3 separate regions of the Homo sapiens genome follow, and all the other regions are linked to region 1. Evidence: fine-mapped expression QTL. A gene starts in region 1. Each other region holds a variant in brackets. All regions are shown on one strand. Distances are between the middles of the regions. Region 1 holds the start of BCL7A (BAF chromatin remodeling complex subunit BCL7A). Region 2 overlaps LOC124903037 (a long non-coding RNA gene). Region 3 overlaps CFAP251 (cilia and flagella associated protein 251).

Evidence for each region.
Region 2: its variant is fine-mapped to the expression of BCL7A in testis (GTEx, PIP above 0.99).
Region 3: its variant is fine-mapped to the expression of BCL7A in whole blood (INTERVAL, PIP 0.98).

What each region holds. Positions count from the first base shown.
Region 1 is chr12:122,017,843-122,026,020 of GRCh38, reverse strand. BCL7A (BAF chromatin remodeling complex subunit BCL7A) reads right to left here and starts at 4,137. Exons shown (of 6, transcript NM_001024808.3): 1 at 3,838-4,137. The coding sequence starts at 3,929. RefSeq lists silencers at 1,849-1,938, 3,419-3,578, 3,729-4,048, 4,179-4,258 and an enhancer at 2,769-3,584.
Region 2 is chr12:121,378,918-121,387,095 of GRCh38, reverse strand. All of the region lies in intron 1 of LOC124903037 (a long non-coding RNA gene), which reads right to left. Among named protein-coding and RNA genes, the nearest start is that of RNF34, 17 kb to the left of the region's middle. The variant G/A (reference allele first, on the strand shown) is at 4,096.
Region 3 is chr12:121,984,456-121,992,633 of GRCh38, reverse strand. All of the region lies in intron 19 of CFAP251 (cilia and flagella associated protein 251), which reads right to left. Among named protein-coding and RNA genes, the nearest start is that of BCL7A, 33 kb to the left of the region's middle. RefSeq lists enhancers at 368-467, 1,550-1,599. The variant T/C (reference allele first, on the strand shown) is at 3,230.

The DNA of each region.
Region 1 (8,178 bases):
TGGGATTACAGGTGTGAGCCAACGTGCCCGGCCTTTTCTCTTTTCTTTCTTCTTTTTTTTTTTTTTTTTTTTTTGAGATGGAGTCTTGCTCTGTTGCTCAGGCTGGAGTGCAGTGGCGCGATCTCGGCTTACTGCAACCTGCGCCTCCCAGGTTCAAGCAATTTTCCTGCCTCAGCCTTAAGAGTAGCTGGGATTACAGGCGTGTACCACCACATCCAGCTAATTTTTTGTATTTTTAGTAGAGACAGGGTTTCACCATGTTGGCCAGGCTGGTTTCCAACTCCTGACTTCAGGTGACCTGCCTGCCTCGGCCTCCCAAAGTGCTGGGATTACAGGCATGAGCCACTGCGTCCAGACTAATTTTTCTTTTTTCTTCTTCTTCTTTTTTTTTTTTGAGATGGAGTCTCGCTCTGTTGCCCAGGCTGGAGTGCGGTGGCGCAATCTCCGCTCACTGCAAGCTCCACCTCCTGGGTTCCCGCCATTCTCCTGCCTCAGCCTCCCAAGTAGCTGGGACTACAGGCGCCCGCCACCACGCCTGGCTAATTTTTTTGTATTTTTTTAGTAGAGACGGGGTTTCACCATGTTTGCCAGGATGGTCTTGATCTCCTGACCTCGTGATCCGCCTGCCCGGCCTCCCAGAGTGCTGAAATTACAGGCGTGAGCCACCGCGCCCGGCTCTTTTTTTTCTTTTTCTTTTTTTTTGGTTTGAGACCCAGGCTGGTCTCAAACTCCTGGGCTCAAGCAATCCTCCTGTCTCAGCCTCCCAAAGCTCTGGGATTACAGGCGTGAGCCACCGCAGCGGGCCTCCAAGCTTACGCTGCAGCCCAAGCTTTCGTCTCCTACCATCGCCCTGGGGTCTTCTCTCCTCCACCAGCACAGGGCCCCCAAACCCTGGCCCAGTTTCCCAAAAAGAGGCCCACCATTTTGTTTTCCCTTTAGCCATCTTCTGGTCACCTCACCTCCACTGGCCTGCCTTGCTGAAACACCAGAAAAAGAGAACAGGAGGCAGCCTGCCCCAAATGAGAGGGAGGCCACAGCTTTTTCCGGGGGTGGGGGAAGCATCAGGGGACAGTGGGTGGGTCGGGGGGGTAATTTTAGGGGTCACTAGGGCTGAGGAGAAACCCACCCAAGGCTCATGGGGCCAAATGATCTGCCAAACACTTCGGCTTCCCTCTGGGTAAAATACAGGGTGCCCTGTTAAATTTGCATTTCAGATAAATTAGATAATGTTTTAGTATAAGTGTGTCCCAAATATTGCATGAGACATACTCAAAAACATTTATTTTTAAAAAAATCTTTCATTGTTTATCTGAAATTCAAATTTAACTGGGTGTGCTGTATTTTTATCTGGTTAAACCTGGCAACCCCACCCCCCCACCAGTGGTGAAATGCATGGTTGGTGACCACACAATTAATAAACAACCCACAGTCTCATGGGCTGAGTCTAAGACCCAATCCGAAGGCGCGGGGAAGGTGAGATATGGCTTCTCAGGGGCCAGAGAAACCTGGGCAATAAGTCCAAGGCTTTCGCTTAGAAGGGGCCAAAAAAAAAAAAAAACAAAAAACCTCAAAGCCAAGTTTCTACAAAGTCCACCTTACAACACAGACAACACTGAGCAACAGCTCCTCCTGCGCCCAGGGCGCGGTGCTCTCGGAGGCATGACCTCAATCGTCCTCAATAACCCGAGGGGACCTGGAAGCCAAGCACAAAACCCCGGGTCACCATGGTTAGAGAAGTGACAATGATATGCCCAAGGTCGCGGCAACGAAGTGAACTGGAAGCTGGACCATGAGATCCCAAAGCCTGAGGTCTTCAGAGGACACGATGTGTTGTTTCCCCAAACCCAGGGAGGCGCAGAGGTACAGCCCCTCAAGCTCCAACTACAGGCCTGGTCCCCGCGGGGTCAGCGGGCTGGAAGGCCTCCAGGCCGGCCGCCCCGGGGCCCGCGGGGTGGGAAGCCCCATCTCTCCATCTGCCCTCCCTGCAGAGCAGCTGGCCGCTCTGCGGGAGCAGCTGTCAGGGTGCAGGAGCCTCTGTCCAGCCGGGAACCTGGAGTAGGAGGCCCCACCACGCCTCCTCGAGCAGAGAAAGGCGGCTTGCCGGCTGTTTCCCAACCTCCAGGCCGGCGACAGAAGGGACCCAGGCACAGACACCAGTTCTTTCTTTGCACAGGGGCTGAGGCAAGGAGGGGAGCAACTCCGGGCTTCCCGCGGGGAATCCCACAGTAGAGGGGGCTGCGGGTTGTTTTCCAGCGTGTGTGTGTTGGCCTGCAGCTGTTTCTGCCATTTTTAAATGGCTCCAGTCGGGCACCGGGCACCCTGTGTACCAGGGGAGCTCCCGAGACACCGACGACTTGGATCTCAACTTTGGAAAGCCTCCCCTTCTCACGGTTCTGAAAATTCTTTGTCCCACTGGAGCCAAACCCAGCCCACGGCCGGGCATCCGGCCATCGCAGCCAGCCCTTTCCATAGGAGGCCGGGGAGCACGTGGACTTTATTGATTTTCCTCTTGCCTTTTTTGTTGGGTTTGACTCAGAAAGGACAGCTAACTTGTGACACCGCCACACCGGAGGCTCGCCCCCAGTGGCTTTTAGAGACCGAGGCGCTACTCGAGAAACGACACCCCCAAACGTAAACATCCCCTGCCACAGGGCCTGCCCAGCTTCCAGGCTCGAAATAAAGGGTCGAGACGAGCCCGCGGGCGCTGACACTCAGAGCCAGCGTTGCGGCGGCTCCTCTCCCTCCGGGACCCCAGTGAAGGCGTGGGAAAAAAATAATAAAGTTGAAATCAGGCAGCGGGGAGTTTTCAACAACTCTGACCCAACCTGGCGATCTGCTTGCGCCTCGGGCCTGGCCCAGGGGCCGATTCCGAGCAGACCCCGACGAGGCCGCGGAAAGGTTCGATCCCCTTAATGTCGACCGGGCCACGCCGGGCGGACGCTAATGTGATCCCGAAAACCACGCGCGGCCGCCACCAAGTCCCCCTCTCCCCGGTGCAGAGAACAAAAACAACAGCTCCCTCCGCAAAACAAACACGAGCTCCCGGTGTGGAGAGGCAGCCGCGGCCCAGGACGAACGGCTTCTGGCCAAAAACATCGGCTGGCCCGAGCCCCCCGCCCGGGGCGCCGCGCAGAGCGGGGTGGGACGTGGGCGCCCCGCGCCCCTGGCCGCTGGCTCCCAGCGCTCGCCCCCATCTTTCCTGGTCGCCGAGAGCCCTCGCTCCAGGCAGCCCAAAGCGCTAAATTTAAACGGCTCGCGCTCTGCAAACTCCGCAGACTCGAGGGCGCCGGGCCCGGGAGGCGGGAGCGGGCGGCCGGGCGGGCCGGGGCTGGCGGAGGGCGGCGGGGCGCGGGCCGGGGTGCGCGGGGAGGAGACGGCGGCGGCGGCCCGCTCGGAGCCTGCACAATGGAGCTCGCGCTCTCCCCGCCGCCGCCGGCATCGCGGCCCCGGCGCGCGGGAAGCCGCTTTCATGTGACTTGCACAAAACGAAATGGCTTCTGGGGCCGGCCCCGAGCCCCCCTCCCGGGAGCCGAGCGCCGCGGCGGGGGCCGCCCCGCCGCTCCAACCGCCTGGCCCCGGCGCCCGCCGCCTCCGGGCCGCCGCGCCAGGTGGGCTACAGGCGCGAGCGCACCTGGGCAGCGGCCGCGGCCCCAGCCTGGCGCAGGTGACCCGGCTCGCGCGCCGCCCGCCCGTCCGCCCGCCCTCGCCAAGTCCCGGGGCCCGCGGCGGGGCTGGGCCGGGGCAGGCGGCCGGGGCGCTGCGCCCCGCGGCTCTCTGGAGCCGCGCTCGGGCTCGGGGCGGCCGGGGAGGCGGCTGGCGGCGGGCGCCTCCGCTTACCATTTGCGCACTTTCTCGATCGCCGCCATGACCCTCTTGATATCATCTTTGGCCCGGCTCCTCGTCTCGGCTCGAACCGACCTGCCCGACATGGTTCCGGCGGGGAGACGGAGGCTGGGGAGCGCGCCCGCCGGGTCCTGCTCGCGCTCCGCGGCGGCCACACTCGCGCCCGCCCGCCGCTCACTCACTCGCGCACAGACACTCGCACTCTCACACGCACACACTCACACACACACACACACACACACACACATACACACACACACAAAGCCCGGGGCCGCCGCGCGCCTGGCCCAGTGCGCAAGCGCCGGGCGGCAGCTGCACAGAGCAGGGGGAGCCGCGCCGCCGCCGCCGCCGGCAGTGCGGCCTCCGGGCGCCGCGGCCACCGGGCAGCGCCCCCGGGCCTCCTGCGCCCCCAGAGGGGACGCCCCGGACGCCCTCCTGGGGAGGTGGCGAAGGGCGCACGGCGACCCCCGGCTCTGGGCGCGCGGTGGGGGCGGGCGTGCGGACACGCGCGCTGACCCTTCCTCGGAGGCTGCAGGTGCCGAGGGGTCCATGGGAGACAGCCGGTCTGCGGGGCGCGGGGGGGTCGCGTTCCCCGGGAGCCAGCCCAGCTGCCCCTGCCCAGCCCCCAGAGCGCGGCGGCGGGTGCAGTCGTGCAAGTTTCTTGCGGGTCTCTTGACTTCTCCGAGTTGAAGGCACCGGTTCGGGACGCGAGGTGCTCTTGGAAAGAGTTGGGCATCGCGCATCTCTGCTGGCCCGCGGCCCTGTTCAAATGCGAGCTAGGACGTCGCCTGCCCCAGGCTTTGTCCTTTTGGAAAACTAGGGTTGTAGGAAGGTGCCTGGTGCCAGGCAGACCACCAGAGACTCTCGACCTTGAGTACTAAAGAGTTTTCTGCTCAGCAAAAGCTCAATGATGATCAGCATCGTAACAGGGACTCTTCCTCCCGCCCCCAGAAGTTCTCTTGTCATAAACAAGGCGAGGGGGTCTTCGCTGAGCTTCACCAGAGGACCACGATTTCACCTTAAGCCATTCCTGACTTCAGTACCAGACTGAGACCAGGCGCTGCTACTGCCCAAATGACCCCTGGTCCCATCTACAAGGAGCACTTTTGAGGCCTCAGAACAGAGCCCCGGGGAGAAATCTGCGATGATCAGGGTAACCTGGGTGCCGCATCTTGCTGTTCAGCTGCAGCGGAACCGGCCGGACCAGAGCTAATGCGCGCCCAGAATGAAGAGGGAGACCGAGAGTGGCCCAAATGTCAGCGCCCCGGGCCTGGAGATGACAGCCCGACAGCAGCCATTTCACAGCTGGGGAAACTGAGTCCTGGGAAAGTTTAAGGTTGCAGCCTTAAGTTGTTACTCATTCTAGACGTTTCCCCTGAGGGTTTGGTCTTTGGGGAACACGCTACTGTGGAAATGGAGAGACCGCAGGCCTTTTCCTAGGCATTTGTTTTTACTATTCTGAAACGCAGTCTCCTGACGTGAAAAATGAAGAAAAGAACAAATACTGGCCGGGCGCGGTGGCTCATGCCTGTAATACCAGCACTTTGGGAGGCCGAGGCGGGTGGATCACTTGAGGTTAAGAGTTCGATACCAGCCTGGCCAACATGGTGGGTGAAACCCCGTCTCTACTAAAAATACAAAAATTAGCCGGGCGCGGTGGTGGGCTCCTGTAATCGCAGCTACTCGGGAGTCTGAGGCAGGAGACTCGCTTGAACCTGGGAGACGGAGGTTGCAGTGAGCAGAGATCCAGCCACTGCACTCCAGCCTGGGAGACAGAGTGAGACCCTGTCTCAGAAAAAAAAAAAAGGCCGGGCGCGGTGGTTCATGCCTGTAATCCCAGCACTTTGGAGGCCGAAGTGGGCAGATCACGAGGTCAGGAGTTCGAGACCAGCCTGGCCAACATGGAGAAACCCTGTCTCTACTAAAAATACAAAAATTAGCTGGGCGTGGTGGTGCAGGCCTGTAATCTGAGCTACGCGGGAGGCTGAGGCAGGAAAATGCTTGAACCTGGGAGGCAGAGGTGCAATGATCATGCCATTGCACTCCAGCCTGGGCAACAGAGCAAAACTGAATCTCAAAAAAACAAAACAAAACAAAATAAAACAAAACAAAACAAAAAAAGAAAGAGAGAAAGAAAAAGAAAAAAAAGAGAAAGAGAAAGAAGGACTTCAGAGAATCGTTCCGAGAATTTTCTGGGAAAATATGCAACAGCAGGTCATAAAACAGATCTCACAGAGATATGTGAGATCAATAGGTATGTGCTTTGGGCCACATGAAACTTTAAAAAAATGTATCTTAAAATTTAAAATAGGAAAATATTATGTCAGAATTCAAATAGTGACTGAGGAACAGATAAATGTGTCTATCCACACAATGGAATATTATTCAGCCATAAAAGGGAATGAATACATGCTACAACATGGGTGAACCTTGAAACACGCTAAGTGAAAGAAGCCAGTCACAAAAGGATAAATATGCGTAAGTCCATTTGCGGGAGATATCTACAACTAGGCGAATCCATAAAGACAGATATCAGATTGGTGGTTGCCAGAGGCAAGGGGGAGGGAGAGCAGGAGTGACTGCTAACGGATGTGGGGTTTCCTTTCGGAGTGATAGGAAAGTTCTGGAATGAGATAGTGGTGATGGTTGCAGAACAATGTGAATGTACTTAATGACGCTGAATTGTACACTTTTAAATGGTTACAATGGTCAATTTTATGTGTATTTGATCATAATAAAAAGAAATCTAGGCTGGGCGCGGTGGCTCACATCTGTGATTCCAGCACTTTGGGAGGCCGAGGTGGGTGGACTGCTAGAGGCCAGGAGTTTGAGACCAGCCTGGGCAACATGGTGAAACCCCATCTCTACAAAAAATTCAAAAAATAGCCAGGTGTGGTTGTGCGCATCTGCAGCCCCAGCTGCTCAGGAGGCTGAGGTGGGGAAGATGGCTTGAGCCCAGAACGTAGAGGCTGCAGTGAGCCAAGATCATGCCACTGCATGAAGCAAAGAAAGAGAGAGAGAGAGAGAGAGAGAGAAAAGAAAGAACGAAAGAAAGAAAGAAGAAAAGAGAGAGGGATGAGGAGAAGGAGAGAGGGAGGGAAGGAAGAAGGAAGAAAAAGAGGGAAGGAGGGAGGGAGGAAGGAAGGAAGGAAAAAAAAAAATACCCAGCTTCTCTAGAACCAGCAGATCTGCAAACTGGACCCTCAGTGCCACATGGCACCCATCGGCTAGAGCAGAGAGCTCTGTCTGTATCTTTCAGACAGAGTTATCTGGGTCACCAGTGCACTCATAGCCACTTTACTCATTTGTGTTACCTGTCTGGCCCCTGAAAGTATTTGTGATTTTGATCCCCAATAAAACCATAAAGCTTTCTTCAAATGTCCTTTGTAAATCTAGTATGTCACTTTTAGTAGTTTCCTGTCTCCTGCAGGTATTTTTACACTTCTTTCTTTCAACAAAGCACAGTAGTTTTACAGCCTGTGTCTGATGATTCTAGTATTTGAAGTCTCCAAGAGTCTGTTTCTGCTAGGTCTTGCTCATGGTGTCATAGTTCCTTGTTATATGCCTGGTTCTCTTTGACCATGCTGGACACTATTTTAAAATTTATTCATAGGGATAATTTGAGGCCTCCCCCTAGAAATAATTTATATTTGCTTCTGCCAGGCCCCTCAGGTCACTGCTAGTCTGGGGTGACCTCAATCCTAGTTCAGGGTTTGTGAGCCCCCGACCACTCAGGTGATGCGAATCCTGGCCGCATAGTTGTGCAAGACTGGTTGACTTCTTGTAGTCTGAGGGTGGAGCCAGGGATGTGCTGCAGATGGTTTACAGGCTTCTGCTTCCCAGCTCTGTGTTTAGTGACCTCATGCTGAGAGTTTGGAATCAGCTGTGGAGGGAGTATTTACACCATGGAAATCGGCAAATGATTTATACATCAGGACCCTCCTTCCCCAGCCCCAGCCAGAGCTGGTGGTTGAACATTTACCAGCATACCATTGGTGGAGTCCGACAGGGCCCAGATTATCGTGGGAAAGGACTCCCGCTTAGTGTGAGTCGTGGATTTTAATTTTCTGGCCTTTTTTTGATTGAGACGGAGTCTTGCTCTGTCACCTAGGCTAGAGTGCAGTGACGTGATCTCAGCTCACTGCAAGCTCCGCCTCCTGGGTTCACACCATTTTCCTGCCTCAACCTCCCAAGTAGCTGGGACTACAGGCGCCCGCCACCACGCCTGGCTAATTTTTTGTATTTTTAGTAGAGACGGGGTTTCACCGTGTTAGCCAGGATGGTCTCGATCTCCCGACCTCGTGATCTGCCCACCTCAGCCTCCCAAAGTGCTGG
Region 2 (8,178 bases), 640 kb after region 1:
CTTAACCTCCTAGGCTCAAGCAATCCTCCTGCCTTAGCCTCCTGAGTAGCGGGGACCATAGGCACATGCCACCATACCCAGACAATTATTGAAAAAAGTTTTGTGAGACAGGGTCTCCCTATGGTGCCTAAGTTGATCTCAAACCCCTGGGCTCAAGTGTTCCTCCCACCTCAGCCTCCCAAAGTGCTGGGATTACAGGTGTGAGCCACCACACCTGGCCTTCATCTTCTTTATACATTTCAAAACCTAGCACATAATAGACAACTTAATAAATATGAATGAATGCATAGAATATTGATAGAATGGATAGAAAACTGCTGGGTATGGTGGCTCACGCCTGTAATCCCAGCACTTTGGGAGGCCGAGGTGGGCAGATCACCTGAGGTTGGGAGTTCGAGACCAGCCTGACCAACATGGAGAAACCCCGTCTCTACTATAAATACAAAATCAGCCGGGCGTGGTGGCAGATGCCTGTAATCCCAGCTACTCAGGAGGCTGAGGCAGGAGAATCGCTTGAGCCCGGGTGATGGAGGTTGCAATGAGCCAAGATCGTGCCATTGCACTTCAGCCTGGGCAACAAGAGTGAAACTCTGTCTCAAAAAAAGAAAAAAAAAAAAAGAAAACTGCAGTGATTACATTAATTTATTGGGATATTTTAGAGATTAACATCACTGACTGTAATAAAAATAGTTAAGAGGCAAAATATAGAAGTCTCCTGTCTCCTTGAGCCTTTGTTCACCCCTGTGCTGGTAATGAGACCTTTCTGTTGAAGTTACAATTCAAGGATTAGGCATTCCATCCCCAATAACAGTTGGCAAAAGTCAAAATAAATATTTTTGGATTCCACAAAATTTGAATTTCACACTGAAGTGATTCAATTTTAAAACATATTTACTTCAAGTCAAGTGTCCAAGTACCATATAAGTAATATCATCTCAAACAGCTACAGAAATGTGAAAATACATTTCAGACATTCACCAACAGACGTCACTGATACGTTGCAGTTATCGTATTTAGCATAAGCTTCAGGTATTAAAAGTAGGCCAGGTGCGGTGGTTCACGCCTGTAATCCCAGCATTTTGGGAGGCCAAGGCGGGCAGATCACTTCAGGTGTGGAGTTTGAGACCAGCCTGTTCAACATGGTGAAACCCTGTCTCTACTAAAAATACAAAAATTAGCCGGGCATGGTGGCGCATACCTGTAATCCCAACTACTTGGGAGGCTGAGGCACAAGAATTGCTTGAACCTGGGGAGGCAGAGGTTGCAGTGAGCCGAGATCACACCACTGCACTCCAGCCTGGATGACAGAGTGGGATTCTGTCTCAAAAAAAAAAAAATGTAGATTAAGTCAACTCTCCCCACCCTCTTGAGAAGTGCTGACAAGGTCGAGAAGACGATAAATGGGACTAAGCCTTTTTTCAAAGATCATAATCAACACATTTATTAAAACCTTGATTGTGTGTAGTGCTATGCCATGCTAAATGATTCACACAGAGAATTAGCTAAACCTTGCCTCTCTCCTCTAACAGTTTACAATCCAAGGCAGACAGGCTGACGCTCTTGCACATTTATAGCCAAATTAGACAGACGCAATGAAATACGAACATTATCAACTGATAAATGAATAAAGTAGACATTCAGGGAAGGAGACATTCAGATGGTTGTGATAAGAAGAGTTGCCTTGAAAATTCCAATTTCAGACTATGCAGGATAAAAAGATTAGTACTCTTATCCATCACCACCTTCATTTACAATCATGTAAGAATATACATGTGCCTAGGCTGGGCACGGGGGGCTCATGCCTGTTATCCCAGCACTTTGGGAGGCCGAGGTGGGTGGATCACAAGGTCAGGAGTTAGAGACCAGCCTGACCAACATGGTGAAACCCCATTTCTAGTAAAAATACAAAAATTAGCCAGGCATGGTGGCGTGCGCCTGTAATCCCAGCTACTCAGGAGGCTGAGGCAAGAGAATTGCTTGAACCCGGGAGACAGAGGTTGCGAAGAGCCGAGATTGCACCATTTGCACTGCAGCCTGGGCAACAGAGTGAGACCCCATCTCAAAAAAAAAAAAAAAAAAGAGATACATGTGCCTAATAATTGTTCCCAAAAATGTCAACCTTTGTCCATCCTCATTCTGAAACCCTTACACCTTCTAGAGTCACAATACTTGTAGCAGTACTTTTTTTTTTTCTTTTTGAGACAGGCTCTTGCTCCATTGCCCAAGCTAGAGTGCAGTGGCAAGATCATGGCTTACTGCAGCATTGACCTTCCTGGCTCAAGTGATCTTCCCCCCTCAGCCTCCTGAATAGCTGGGACTACAGACACCATGCCTGGCCCGTTTTTTTTTTTTTTTTTTTTGTAGAGACAAGATCTCACTATGTTACCCAGACTGGTCTCAGACTCCTGGCCTCAAGCAATCCTCCTGCCTCGCCCTCCCAAAGTGGTGGGATTACAAGCATGACCCACCATTCCTGGCTGCCTGTAGTAATTTTGTAAGACTATAATTTCAAATGGTATTCTTGAACACACATCTGACTATGTCTTTGCTAAAAGGTTAATAAAATAGCCTTTTCTTTTCAGCACTGCTGCCAAGATTTCCAAAACAGCTCTTTTCATCTTGTATTGAATTTTTTTTTGTTTCAACTGATTCAATTCTATTTAATTCTTATCTCCCCTACTTCAACTTTTTTTTTTTTTTTTTTTTGAGACAGAGTTTCGCTCTTGTTGTCCAGGCTGGAGTGCAATGACAAGATCTCAGCTCACTGCAACCTCCACCTCCCAGGTTCAAGCAATTCTCCTGCCTCAGCCTCCTGAGTAGCTGGGACTACAGGTGCACACCACCACACTCGGCTAATTTTCATGGTTTTTTTAGTAGAGACGGGGTTTCTCCATGTTGGCCTGGCTGGTCTCGAACTCTTGACCTCAGGTGATCCACCTGCCTTGGCCTCCCGAAGTGCTGGGATTACAGGCCTGAGCCACACCACCTGCTGAAGCTAATTCTTTAGAATGGCCCCTTTAATTTGAATGGCTAATTATTACACCATTAGACGCTTGAAAAAAATACTTTTGGCCAGGCGCGGTGGCTCAGCAGTACACATATGCAGGTGTGTATATTGATATGACACTCATAGAAGAGTTCTAGGAATTTGCTCGATATGTTTATAGCTGGGTGTGAACTGATAGTCCCGAAGCTGAAAGTGGAAACTCCAGTACCTAGATTCAGATCCATGTTTCAAGTCGCTCTGAATATCACTTTTTTTTTTGTTTGAGACAGGGTCTTGCTCTGTTGCCTAGGCTGGAGTGCAGTGGCACAGTCACGGCTCACTACAGCCTCCACCCCTGGGCTCAAGCGATCCTCCTGCCTCAGCCTCCTGATTAGCTGGAACCACCAGTGGGCGCCACCACACCTGGCTAATTTTTGTAATTTTTGTCGAGATGGAGTTTTGCCCTCTTGCCCAAAATGGTCTGGAACTCCTGGGCTGAAGCAATTCTCCCACCTCAGCCTCCCAAAATGCTGAGATTACAGGCCTAAGCTACCACACCTGCCTGAAAATTATCTTTAAAATGACCTCAGATGCCTGGCTGAGTAATGTGTAGGTACTAGAATAGGCACAGGGGTGCCATAAAAAATGTTAGTAGATGAATGACATAATCCAAGTTTCTTGGTTTTCGTTGTTTTTCCTGTAAATGAATGACCCCTAATAGAAATTTTCAGTTCATGACTGTTAATGGGGATGGGGGAGAAATGTCCAGATCTGTTGTAATCCTTAGCTTTCTAAAATTCTTGCCCAGCCTCTAAAGCACTGCTCTCCAAATCTTATTATGTCTAAGAATAGAAATATCCTGGAGCGCTGACCTGATAGAAGTATTTTTCAGTTGTTTGATAGTGTTCACCTCGACTCTTATTAGAAGAGAGGGTAGCAAAGATTGGGATGCCTTTCCAAAAATATCGAAGCCTTTATCCAATATGGAATCACTGTCCCACAGCAGTGAGAATTACCTTAAGCAAAGTTATCTTGCTTAGAAAGTTGACTATAAAGACGGCTATGAGGACCGAAATCTTAATTTTCTTTTTTTTTTCTGATTACAAAAG[G/A]AAAATGCATTATTGTAGAAATATAGAAAAGTGTACAAAAGAATATTAAAATTACGATTCCACTACTTAAAGATAAGCAGTACCAGCATTTTGATGTACATCTGACAATTACAACAGCCAGACTTAACATTTACTGAGTCTTCTAATTTTTTTTTTTTTTGAGAAAGAGTCTTGCTCTGTCGCCCAGGCTGGAGTGCAGTGGCGGCATCTCAGTTCACTGCAAGCTCCACCTCCCCGGTTCACGCCATTCTCCTGCCTCAGTCTCCCCAGCAGCTGGGACTACAGGCGCACGCCTCCATGCCCAGCTAATTTTTTGTATTTTCAGTAGAGACGGGGTTTCACCGTGTTAGCCAGGATGGTCTCCATCTTCTGACCTCGTGATCCGCCCACCTTGGCCTCCCAAAGTGCTGGGATTACAGGCGTGAGCCACCGTGCCCATCCGAGTCTTCCAATTTTTAAAAAGTATGCTGGCCAGAGGCCGGGCATGGCACACAGCTGTAGTCCCAGCTACTCGGGAGGCTGAGGCAGGAGGATTGTTTGAGCCTAGGAGGCAGAGGTTGCAGTGAGCCGAGATTGTGCCACTGCACTCCAGCCTGGGCAACAGAGCTCGACTCCTTCTCAAAAAAAAGAAAAAAAAAAAAGCTAAGCACTATGCGTTAGAACACAGATGTTCTCATTATTTTAAAGACATGGGGGTCTTGCTATGTTGTCCAGGCTACATTCAAATTTTTCCAGAGAATGGGTGTATCAATTTGCATTTCTATTGGTTTTGTATAGAAACAGCCCAATTCTCTGCACTCTGATCAGCGCTTATTAATTTACTCAAATCTTGGCCAATACTGTGTCTATTTTATTTATTTATTTGAAATAGGATCAAGCTGGGCATGGTGGCTCATGTCTATAATCCCAGCACTTTGAAAGGCCGAGGTAGGCAGATCACCTGAGGTCAGGAATTCAAGACCAGCATATAGCCAACATGGTGAAACCCCATCTCTACTAAAAATACAAAAATTAGCCGGGCATGGTGGCAGGCAACTGTAATCCCAACCCTAATCCCTCTAATATTCTGGAGGCTGAGGCAAAAGAATTGCTTGAACCCAGGAGGTGGAGGTTGCAATGAGCAGAGACAGTGCCACTGCACTCCAGCCTGGGAGACAAAGCGAGACTCCGTCCCCACCCCCCCAAAAAAAAAGAAATAGAATCTTACTCTGTCACCCAGGCTGCAGTGCAGTGGCACAATTACAGCTCACTGCAGCCTCAAACTCCTGGTTTCAAGCAATCCTCCCACCTCAGCCTCCTGAGTAGCTGGGACTATAGGTACGTGCCACCACATCTGGCTAATTAAAAAAAAAAAATTTTTTTTGAGACAGAGTATCACTCTTTCACCCAGGCTTGAGTGCAGTGGTGCGATCTCTGCTCACTGCAACCTCCACCTCCTCGGTTCAAGTGATTCTCACGCCTCAGCCTCCCCAGTAGCTGAGATTACAGGTGCCTGCCACCATGCCCGGCTAATTTTTGTATTTTAGTAGAAATGGGGTTTCACCATGTTGGCCAGGCTGGTCTCTAACTCCTGACGTCAAGTGACCCACCTGCCTCAGCCTCACAGCATGTTGGGATTACAGGCATGAGCCACCACGCCCGGCCAAAAATTTTTTTTTGTAGAGGTAGAGTTTTGCTATGTTTCCCAGGCTGGTCTTGAACTCCTGACCTCAAGCAACCCTCCTGCCTCAGCCTCCCAAAGTGTTGGGATTACAGGTATGAACCACCATGCCTGGCTTTCTGAGTCTAAATAATGGCATTTTTCTTATTTTGATTTGCATTTCTTTTATTTTTGGTAGAGTTAAACATTTTTCTTTTTCTTTCCCTCCCATCTTTATTGAGGTGTAATTGACAAATAAAAACTGTATATATTCACGGTGTACAATATGTTTTGATATATTTATACACTGTAAAATGATCACCACAGCCAGGCGTGGTGGCTTATGCCTGTAATCCCAGCACTTTGGGAGGCCGATGCGGGCGGATCACCTGAGGTTGGGAATTCGAGACCAGCCTGACCAACATGGAGAAACCCCGTCTCTACTGAAAATACAAATTCAGCCAGGCGTGGTGGCCCATGCCTGTAATCCCAGCTACTTGGGAGGCTGAAGCAGGAGAATCGCTTGAACCCGGGAGGTGGAGGTTGCAGTGAGCCCAGATGGCACCACTGCACTCCAGCCTGGGCAACAAGAACAAGAGCGAAACTCGTTGTCAAAAAAAGATCACCACCGAAAGGCTAATTAACATATCCACCACCTCATGTAATTACCGTTTTTTGGTGGCAAGAACACTAAGTTCTACTGTGTTAGAAAATGTCAAGTATACAATACATTGTTATTATTATTTATTATTATTTTTTTGAGACGGAGTCTTGCTTTGTCGCCCAGGCTGGAGTGCAGTGGCACAATCTTGGCTCACTGCAAGCTCCACCTCCCTGGTTCACGCCATTCTCCCGCCTCAGCCTCCCGAGTAGATGGGACTACAGGCGCCCGCCACCATGCCTGGTTAATTTTTTGTATTTTTAGTAGAAATGGGGTTTCACCATGTTAGCCAGGATGGTCTTGATCTCCTGACCTCGTGATCCACCCGCCTTGGCCATCCAAAGTGCTGGGATTACAGACGTGAGCCACCGCGCCCGGCCTACATTATTATTAGTTACGGTTACCATATGCTATATTTTTGATCTCCAGAATTTATTTATCTTATAATTGAAACTTTCCTTTGACCAAAATTCTCCTGTTTCTCCCTCCCTATGGCTCTTGTCAACCAACCTACTCTCGTTTCTATGAGTTAGACTTCTTTGGATACCACACATAATGAGATCATGCAGTGTTTATCTTGAGTTGAACTTTTTTTTTCCATCAAGCCAATTGTTTTAGCGTCTTTATGTATTTTAGAAACAAATGAGAATTGTAATGTCAAGGCCTTCAGCATTGACTAGTTTGGAGCTAACTCTTAGAATACAAAAAGGTAGTTCCTGGCCGCGCACAGTGGCTCACGCCTGTAATCCCAGAACTTGGGAGGCTGAGGCAGATGGATCACTTGAGGTCAGGGGTTCAAGACCAGCCTGGCCACCATGGTGAAACACCATCTCTACTAAAAATATAAAAATTAGCCAGGCACAGTGGCACATGCCTGTATTCCCAGCTACTTGGGAGGCTGAGGCAGGAGAATCACTTGAACCTGGGAGGCAGAGGTTGCAGTGAGCTGAGATTACTCCACTGTGCTCCAGCCTGGGCAACAGAGCAAGATTCTGTTTCTTTTTTTTTTTTTTTTTTTTTTGAGATGGAATCTTGTTCTGTCATCCAGGCTGGAATGCAGTGGCACAATCTTGGTTCACTGCAGCCTCTGCTTCCGGGTTTTAAGCAATTCTCCTGCCTCAGCCTCCCCAGTAGCTGAGATTATAGGCACGCACAACCACGCCTGGCTAATTTTTGTATTTTTAGTAGAGGCGAGGTTTCACCATGTTGGCCAGGCTGGTCTCGAACTCCTGACCTCACATGATTCACCCACCTTGGCCTCCCAAAGTGCTGGGATTACAGGTGTGAGCCACAATGCCCGGCCGAGACTCTGTTTCCCAAAAAAAAAAAAAAAAAAGAAAAAAAAGGAATTAGCATTCTACTCCTAAGTATATACTCAAAAGAACTGAAAACATATACTAGAACAAATACTTGTACATGAATGTTCATAGCAGTGCTATAAACAAGAGTCAAAAGACAGATATATCCCAAATTTCCATCAACTGATGAATGGATTAAAACATTGTGGTATATATACACAACAGAATATTATTCAACCATAAGAAATGAAGTACTGATACATGTTACAACATGAATGAATCTGGGTAACATTTTACTAAGTCAAATAAGCCAGAAACGAAAGGTCACATACTGTATCACATCCCCCCCTTGTTTTTGCAGGGACAGGGTCTTGCTCTGTTGCCCAGTCTAGTCTCAAACTTCTGCCCTCAAATGATCCTCCAGCCTCTGCTTCCCAAAGTGCTAGGCTTACAGGCAGGATTCACCATGCCTGGCTGAGTCTATT
Region 3 (8,178 bases), 33 kb after region 1:
TGCACTCCAGCCTGGGCAACAGGAGTGAGGAGTAAGACCCTGTCTGAAAAAGAAAAAAAAAAGAAATAATATATATAAATATATATAAATTACCAATGTAATATATGATTTAACTCAGTTCAGAACAGGAGACTAAGACGACAAAAGGAATTCATAAGGGCCTGAGTTACTCATACCCAGAGAGTTCCAAAGAGCTCAGCAAACATTCACAGCACAAACCACTCAGCATGTGATTCACCTCTTACTCTCTCTTCCCGTATGACTGATCAAGAATCACTACTCAACAAGCACGGAGTTGGCAGCTTCGGCATCACTGACATTTCCTTCCTGAGCCGACTTCGCAAGTGTTCGTTGAAAAGGCAGGTTCTGCTACTTGTCTGAACAAAGTTCATGCTTGGGAGAGGAACCTCGGAGCTGGAAATAGAACGCAGAGCTTGTTCTGAACGCCCCCGTGTGAAGATGGCTTGAGAGAAGCAGGAGTCCTAGCTGAGCGGCCCAGACGCACTGGTGGTTGTCAGTCAGCCTGGCCTTTGATTGGCATTCTCACGCCTGCTAAGGCGGGGCTTTATTCCATTCACCTGGAGAGCTTAAACAGTTCTGAGGCCCAGATCCTATTCCCTGAGAACCTGATTTTTTTTTTTAGATGATAGTCTCACTCTGTCGCCCAGGCAGGAGTCCAGTGGCGTGATCTCGGATCACAGCAACCTCCACCTCCTGAGTCCAACCAATTCTCCTGCCTCAGCCTCCCAAGTAGCTGGGACTACAGGCGCGCGCCACCACAGCTGGCTAATTTTTGTATTTTTAGTAGCAACAGGGTTCCTACTGTTGGCCAGGCTGGTCTCAAACTCTTGACTTCAAGTGATCTGCCTGCCTCGGCCTCCCAAATTGCTGGGATTACAGGAATGAGCCACCACAACCAGCTGAGATCCTGATTTAATTGGTCTGGGGACCAAATTTTTGGAAGCTTCTCATTCGAATGATTTGAATGCGTAGCCAAGCTTGAGAAACATGGCTGGAAGGCAAAGGCTCGCTGACATGTCAGGCTTCACAATGACCGGGAGGTCTTGTTCAAACAGACTGCTGGTCCCACCTGGGGGGTTTCTGAGTCTGGGATAGGGTCTGACCATTTGCATTTCTTGTAAGTCCCTAGGTCACGTGAAGTCAATCCTGTTGGTCTGGGGACCACACTTTGAATACTGCTGCTCTTAGACCACAGGGGTTCACGGAGGTGATACTGGTGCCAAAATGAATCAGCCCCAAGCTTGTGACTTTCAGTAGAGAGTAATAATGGGTGGCAGCTGCGGTGCACGCTCTAATTCTTTGGGCTCACATCTGTTTTCCCCATTAAGCTGTAGCCAGAGCTTTCATCTCTATTTCCCCGGCAGCTTAGTTCAGAGCCTGGCACATTATAGAGGCTCAGAGAAATGTTTACTGAATGGATAGATAGATGGATGAATGGATGAATGAATGAATGATGAAGTAAATAATGTGGACACAAGTGAGGCCACAAAAAGAATTCTCTTGAAACTCACAAGAAGCTTAGAATAATCATTTAGTGCCCTAGTTAATTTTACTCGATTTACTAGTAGTTACTGAGCATTTGGTTTAGTGCAAAGCCAATGAAATACAAGTCTCTCAATTATTACTAGAACAGTTCTGCATTCTGGTTTTCAATCTTAGTCACTGGGGTCAGCAAATATTTATTCAGTGTCTATTAAGGTCTGGGCCATGTGAAGAGATGCTCAAGAGACGATATACACAAGGAAAGCGAACTAACAGGCTCCATCGCCAAGGTCCTCAGCCCTGGCTGCCTGGGGCTTTAAAAACTGTCCATGCTTAGACTCCACCCCTAGGTTCTGTTGCACAAGGCTGGGGCCCAGGTGTAAAAATCAGGTGTAAAAATACTGATGTATTTTTTTAAGTGCCCTCAACTGATTTTAAAAGGTTGGCTACCGTGGCTCTAGAAGATTCAGTGCCAAGATGCAGGAGAACATCATCAAAGGTTGGAGGAGCTCTCAGCCAGGTGGGCTTCGGGAAGGCTTCCTGGAAGAGGTGGGCCTACTGCAGAGCCATGAAGGGTTTGGCCAGTAGGAGGTCAGAGGAAGACACTGTATGCTGGGAAACAAGCATGAGGAGGAGGGTGCAGAGGAGGTGCCCACCCCGAGCCCATGCACCCAATTCTAGACCACACTCTGGGTACCTGAACCCGAGGCTTCTCTCCCCTACATAACCTAAGCCCACTTCCGGGGCCCATGGGGATCTCACCCTCCTGAGGCCAACCTGTGCCCCTGGTGTTGCCCACCCATAGGCCTGAAGGGTGCCCCGGGGCTGCTGTTTGGAGAGTATAGAGAAGGGTCCACCTCCTGAATGCCATGCACACAGTGGCCAGGGATGGGGTCAGAGCTGGGAGGACACATGGGGCAGGCCCAGCTTGGCTTGGCCCTGCATGCTGCCCATTCGGGTGTGAACTTTGAATCAGCTCATGTTGAAGGTTGAACTGTCAAGGGGGAATATTTATTTATCAGCTTGTTGCTTGATTGGTAACTTTTAAACATTTAGACATACAGCATCTGGGCCTCTGTTGCCCCGACTGCTCCAGGCCCCAAGACATGAGGGTGGCCTCTTGGTGGTGGGCTGGAGTCCCCTCACCCGAGAGCATCTTATTTCTGCCTCTGTCATTGATGACGCAGGCCTTTGGGTCTGTGATCCCTGCTGTCAGCCTCAGGAAGCCATTGATGTCCTTAGAATTATGTTCTATAATTAAGTTTTACAACCTCCCTATTAAATGGAGAGGAACACGATATATTTGAACTGGGGCCATTCCTTGTTTTTATAAGCAGGCTCCTGGTGGGGGCAGGTTTGCTTTTCTAATGGTTTCATGGACCAGTAGGACTGGGAGCACTCACCCTCTTCCCCACGCCCTCTTCCCAACGCACAATACCCTCTAGAACATTCTCAACTAATGGGGCACAGTGTCTTGTTCCCACTCATCATCTTCACTCATACCCTCCCCTGGTCACCCCCTGCATCTCCTCGCTGACCCGGGGCAGGGAGTAGTGGGCTGAGGAGGGGGCGTAAGGGCTGGGCAGCGTCACTGCATGGCCACATCTGGAGACCCCTGTGAGCGCCCCCTCTGCGATTCATGCAACACTGTGACCCCAACTGCTCCATACCTCCCTCCAGGAACTAGATCTGGATGGCGACTGCCTCTTTTTCCAGGAGTGGGGCA[T/C]GCATGCACAGTTCTGCCCTCTGGACGCAGTCTCAGGTGACAGCAGCCAAGGCCTGGCCTGGTGCTCTTGCCCACTGTCTTCTACTCCATGTGAACAACACCCATTCACAGGGCCCTTTAGAGTGACTGTCACCCTGCCCTGCATCAGAGCCCAGGTCTCAAACACCTCCAGGGACTCTTCCCTTCCCAGTGAATGTTTTCAAAGGTCTGAAAGAGACAGTCCTAGCTGAATGACAAGTCTTGCACCTTGTACCAAACCCACAATCAAGGATTTGCTAATTCTGTGTCCACAGCTCTCTAAAATCCTGATCCTGCCTCATGCACCCTAAAGCCCCAGATGGTTCCTAGCTCAAGTGAAGAAGTGATGTGGGCCGGGCACCGTGGCTCACATCTGGGATCCCAGCACTTTGGGAGGCCAAGTTGGGTGGATCATTTGAGGTCAGGAGTTCAAGACCAGCCTGGCCAACATGGTGAAACCCCATCTCTACTAAAAATACAAAAATTAGCTGGGCGTGGGGGCGGGCACCTGTAGTCCCAGGTACTCGGGAGGCTGAGGTGGGAGAATCACTTGAACTTGGGAGGCAGAGGCTGCAGTGAGCCGAGATCGCGCCATTGCACTCCAGCCAGAGGGAGATTTCATCTCAAAAAAAAAAAAAAGAGAAAAAAAAGAAAAAAAAATCCAACAACAACAAAAAACTTGCACACGAATGTTCACAGCAGCCTTATCCATAATAGCCAAGAAAATGGGAAAACGTAAATGTCCATCTGTTCGTGAATGGATACATAAAATGTGGCATATCTACATGAACGAATAGAATGTTACTCAATCATAAAGAAAAGAATGAAGGACTGAGACAAGCTACAACCTGGATGAACCTGGAAAACATGATGCTGAGTGAGTGAAAGAAGCTGGACCCAAAAGACCACATATTTCATGACTCCATTTATATGAAATGCCAAGATAGGCCAATCCATAGAGACAGAAAGCACATCGGTGGTTGAAGGAGAAATGGGAAGTGAGTGCTCATGGGTCTGGGGTTTCTTTTTGGGATGATAAACATGTTCTAGGATTACGTGGTGGTGATGTCTGCACTACTCGGTGGACATTCTAAAAACCAATGAACTGCATCCTCTAAACAGGTGAATTACGTGGTATGTGGTATATCTCAATAAAGTTTTTTTTAAGAAAAGAAAATAAATAATATGGAGAAGCCATGGCAATGGCAAGTAACAACATTTCGATTCTAAGAACATTAATTTAATATTTTTGAAATATTTTTAAAAATATTTAAAAATATTTAAAATATTTTTAAAATATATCTTCCACCATCATTGTGATCTACCCTTTTATATCATAAAACCAGTCAAGAGTGAAACATGCTTGTTATGAAAAATTCTAACAATGGAGATATAAAGAAAAATAATAATAAAATGCCCTGAAATTCCCCGTCCTGCAGCAATAACCAGTGTTGGATGCCAGAATTTTTAGGGTTTTCTTCCTTCTTTGTACCAACTCATACATACGTAGGAACAGAACCTGGAGTTGGGGGTCAGCCAGCTTGGTTCAAACCCTGGCTGTGCCCTCGGTAGCTAAGTGACTATACAATCTTTCTTCTCTCTCTAGGCCTCACTTTCCCAGAATGGTATTATGCATTACTATTACCTGTATTCTTTTTTTTTTTTTTTTTTGAGACGGAGTCTCGCTTTTCTTGCCCAGGCTGGAGTGCAATGGTGCCATCTTAGCTCACTGCAACCTCCGCCTCCCGGGTTCAAGCGATTCTCCTGCCTCAGCCTCCCGAGTAGCTGGGATTACAGGTGTGCGCCACCATGCCTGGCTAATTTTTGTATTTTTAGTAGAGACAGGGCTTCACCATGTTGGCCAGGGTGGTCTCGAACTCCTGACCTCAGGTGATGCGCCCACCTCAGCCTCCCAAACTGCTGGGATTACGGGTATGAACCACCAGGCCTGGACTCTATCGCCTGCATTCTTTTTAATGGCTGCATAGTAATCCAAGATTTATTTCTTTAAATGCTTTACATGTGAAAAGCAGAAATAGTTTTGTCTTGCTCTGATCTTTCTGCAGGAAGCCCACCTCTCGCTGGGCAGGGGCCTGGCCACGGACTCTCTGTTGGCCAGGAAGGCCTCCCCTAGAACACTGGGCCACTTCTATTACCTTCAGGATGGAAATGCCTGCTGATATTTACGTTTCAGGGCAAGACCCAACATACTGAGGGCTTCTCTTCAAAGTGCAAATTTCCAAATTCCCTCGGGGTCTTTATCAGAACAGAAATTGTCCCTGTGCTTCTTGGCTCAAATTACCCCCCTCGTTATGGGTGAGGCTGAACCACTTGGCTACAGACCTCCATCCCAGCTGGGACCCTGCTTTAGCCATGAAGATTAGCACACAGGGCTTTGGGGGGATTTGCTTGTTTATCTTTCTCGTTTTTGTTCTGAATACAAAAGCAACACAAGCTGCATGTTTATAGTTAGGAGAACTTAAATAGTACAGAAATGTATGTCCGAGGTCTCCCCAAATTTATAGCCACAACTGTCTCCTAAGGAGGGCAGATGCCACTGAATGAAACGGCCTTTTATTTATAGAACCCCTAGATGGGCTTTTTTTTTTTTTTCTTTTTCTTTGAGACAGAGTCTCACTGTGTTGCCCATACTGGAGAGCAATGGTGCAATCATGGCTCACTGCAGCCTTGACCTCTGGGCTCATGTGATCCTCCCACCTCAGCCTCCTGAGTAGCTGGGACTTCAGGCGTGAGCCACTACATCCAGCAATTAAAAAAAAAAAAATTCGGCTGGGCGCGGTGGCTCACATCTGTAATCCCAGCACTTTGGGAGGCCGAGGTGGGAGGATCACGAGGTCAGTGATCCTCTGATCACTGTAGAGACGGTGAAACCCCGTCTCTACTAAAAATACAAAAAAAAAATTAGCCAGGCGTGGTGGCGGGTGCCTGTAGTCCCAGCTACTCAGGAGGCTGAGGCAGGAGAATGGTGTGAACCCAGGAGGCGGAGCTTGCAGTGAGCTGAGATCGTGCCACTGCGCTGCAGCCTGGGTGACAGAGGGAGACTCGGTCTCCAAAAAAAAAAAAAAAAAATTCGTGGCCAGCCATGGTGGCTCATGCCTATAATCCCAGCACTTTGGGAGGCCAAGGTGGGAGGATCATCTGAGGTGAGGAGTTCGAGACCAGCCTGGCCAACATGGCGAAACCCCATCTCTACTAAAGATACAAAAAATTAGCTGGGCATGGTGGCACTGCGGGTAATTCCAGCTACTCGGGAGGCTGAGACAGAAGAATTGCTTGAATCCAGGAGGTGGAGGTTGCAGTGAGCCGAGATCACGCCATTGCCTACCAGCCTGGGCAAAACAGCAAGACTCTCTCAAAAAAATAATAATAATTTGTAGAGACAAGGTCTCACTACGCTGCTCAGGCTGGTCTTGAATTCCCAAGGACAAGCGGTCCTTCCACTTTGGCCTCATAAAGTGCTGGGAATACAGGTGAAGAGACACAGTACCAGGCCAATCTCACTTGTAGGTGTGCCTTATTTTATTAATCTCATCTCCTATCAATGGATATCAGTGTTGTTTTGATTTTCAACACAATAGACTATGTGACAACAATTGTCCCTTCAGGTCAAGTACAGGTTTGGAGGGCCTGTAGTCCCAGCAACTAGGAAGGCTAAAGCAAGAGGCTTGCCTAAGCCCAGGAGTTTGAGACCAGCCTGGGCAACGTAGTGAGACTCCATCTCAATATTTATATATATTATATATTTAAAATTATTCCTTCCATATGTACATCATTATAAACTTGGGTGAGTTTTTCTGTAGGATACACTCCCTTTTTTTTTTTTTTTTTTTGAGATGGAGTCTTGCTCTGTCGCCCAGGCTGGAGAGTATGGTGGCACCATTTCAGCTCACTGCAACCTCTGCCTCCTGGGTTCAAGCGATTCTCCTGCCTCACCCTCTGGAGTTGCTGGGATTACAGGCATGCACCACCATGCCCAGCTAATTTTTGTATTTTTAGTAGAGACGGGGTTTGGCCATGTTGGCCAAACTGGTCTCGAACTCCTGACCTCAGGTGATCCTCCCACCTCGGCCTCCCAAAGTGCTGGGATTACAGGCGTGAGCCTCCGCGCCTGGCCAGGATACACTCTTAAAAGTACATTTGTTGAGTCAAAAGATATATACATTTTTAAAGTTAAGCAAAAAATAAATAGCAAATAAAATAAAAAGTTAAGTGACTATTTAATTCCTTTCTAAATGCTCCTAAGCTATGCCCAAGCTCCTGAATATATCAAACACATTAGGGTTACTAAGAATTACACTGAGATCAAATAATAATGTCAGGGATTGTGTCTTCCTCACTGTCTCTGCTGTCGAATATGACCAATGAGCATCATTGATTCATTCACTCATTCCATCAACATTTGCCAAGCGTCCACCATGTGGGCACTTGCTGGGCACATACGTCTCTACAGGATTAGACTTAAGTTTACAGAACTAGGTGGTTGCACCAATGTTAATTCCCTGCCCAAACCTGTCAAGATTATACAACACTCTGCAAGCTAAAAAGAAGTGAAGTTGCAAGTAAGCAGGAAACGAATGATATGCTGGGCCCCATCCCAACGTGGACAGTCCAACATCCTGGAGGAAAAGACACATTTATAAAGATAGAGGATGGAACTGCCTTGTATGTGAAATCATCTGTAGAAACGATGACACCTAAGCTATGGTTCCTTTGATAACATTATACATGCTGCAGATCTTTCATTTAAAAATGATTTCTAGGCCGGGCGCCGTGGCTCACACCTTGTAATCCCAGCACTTTGGGAGGCCAAGGCAGGCGGATCAGGAGGTCAGGAGATTGAGACCTTCCTGGCTAACACCGTGAAACCCCGTTTCTACTGAAAATACAAAAAATTAGCTGGGTGTGGTGGT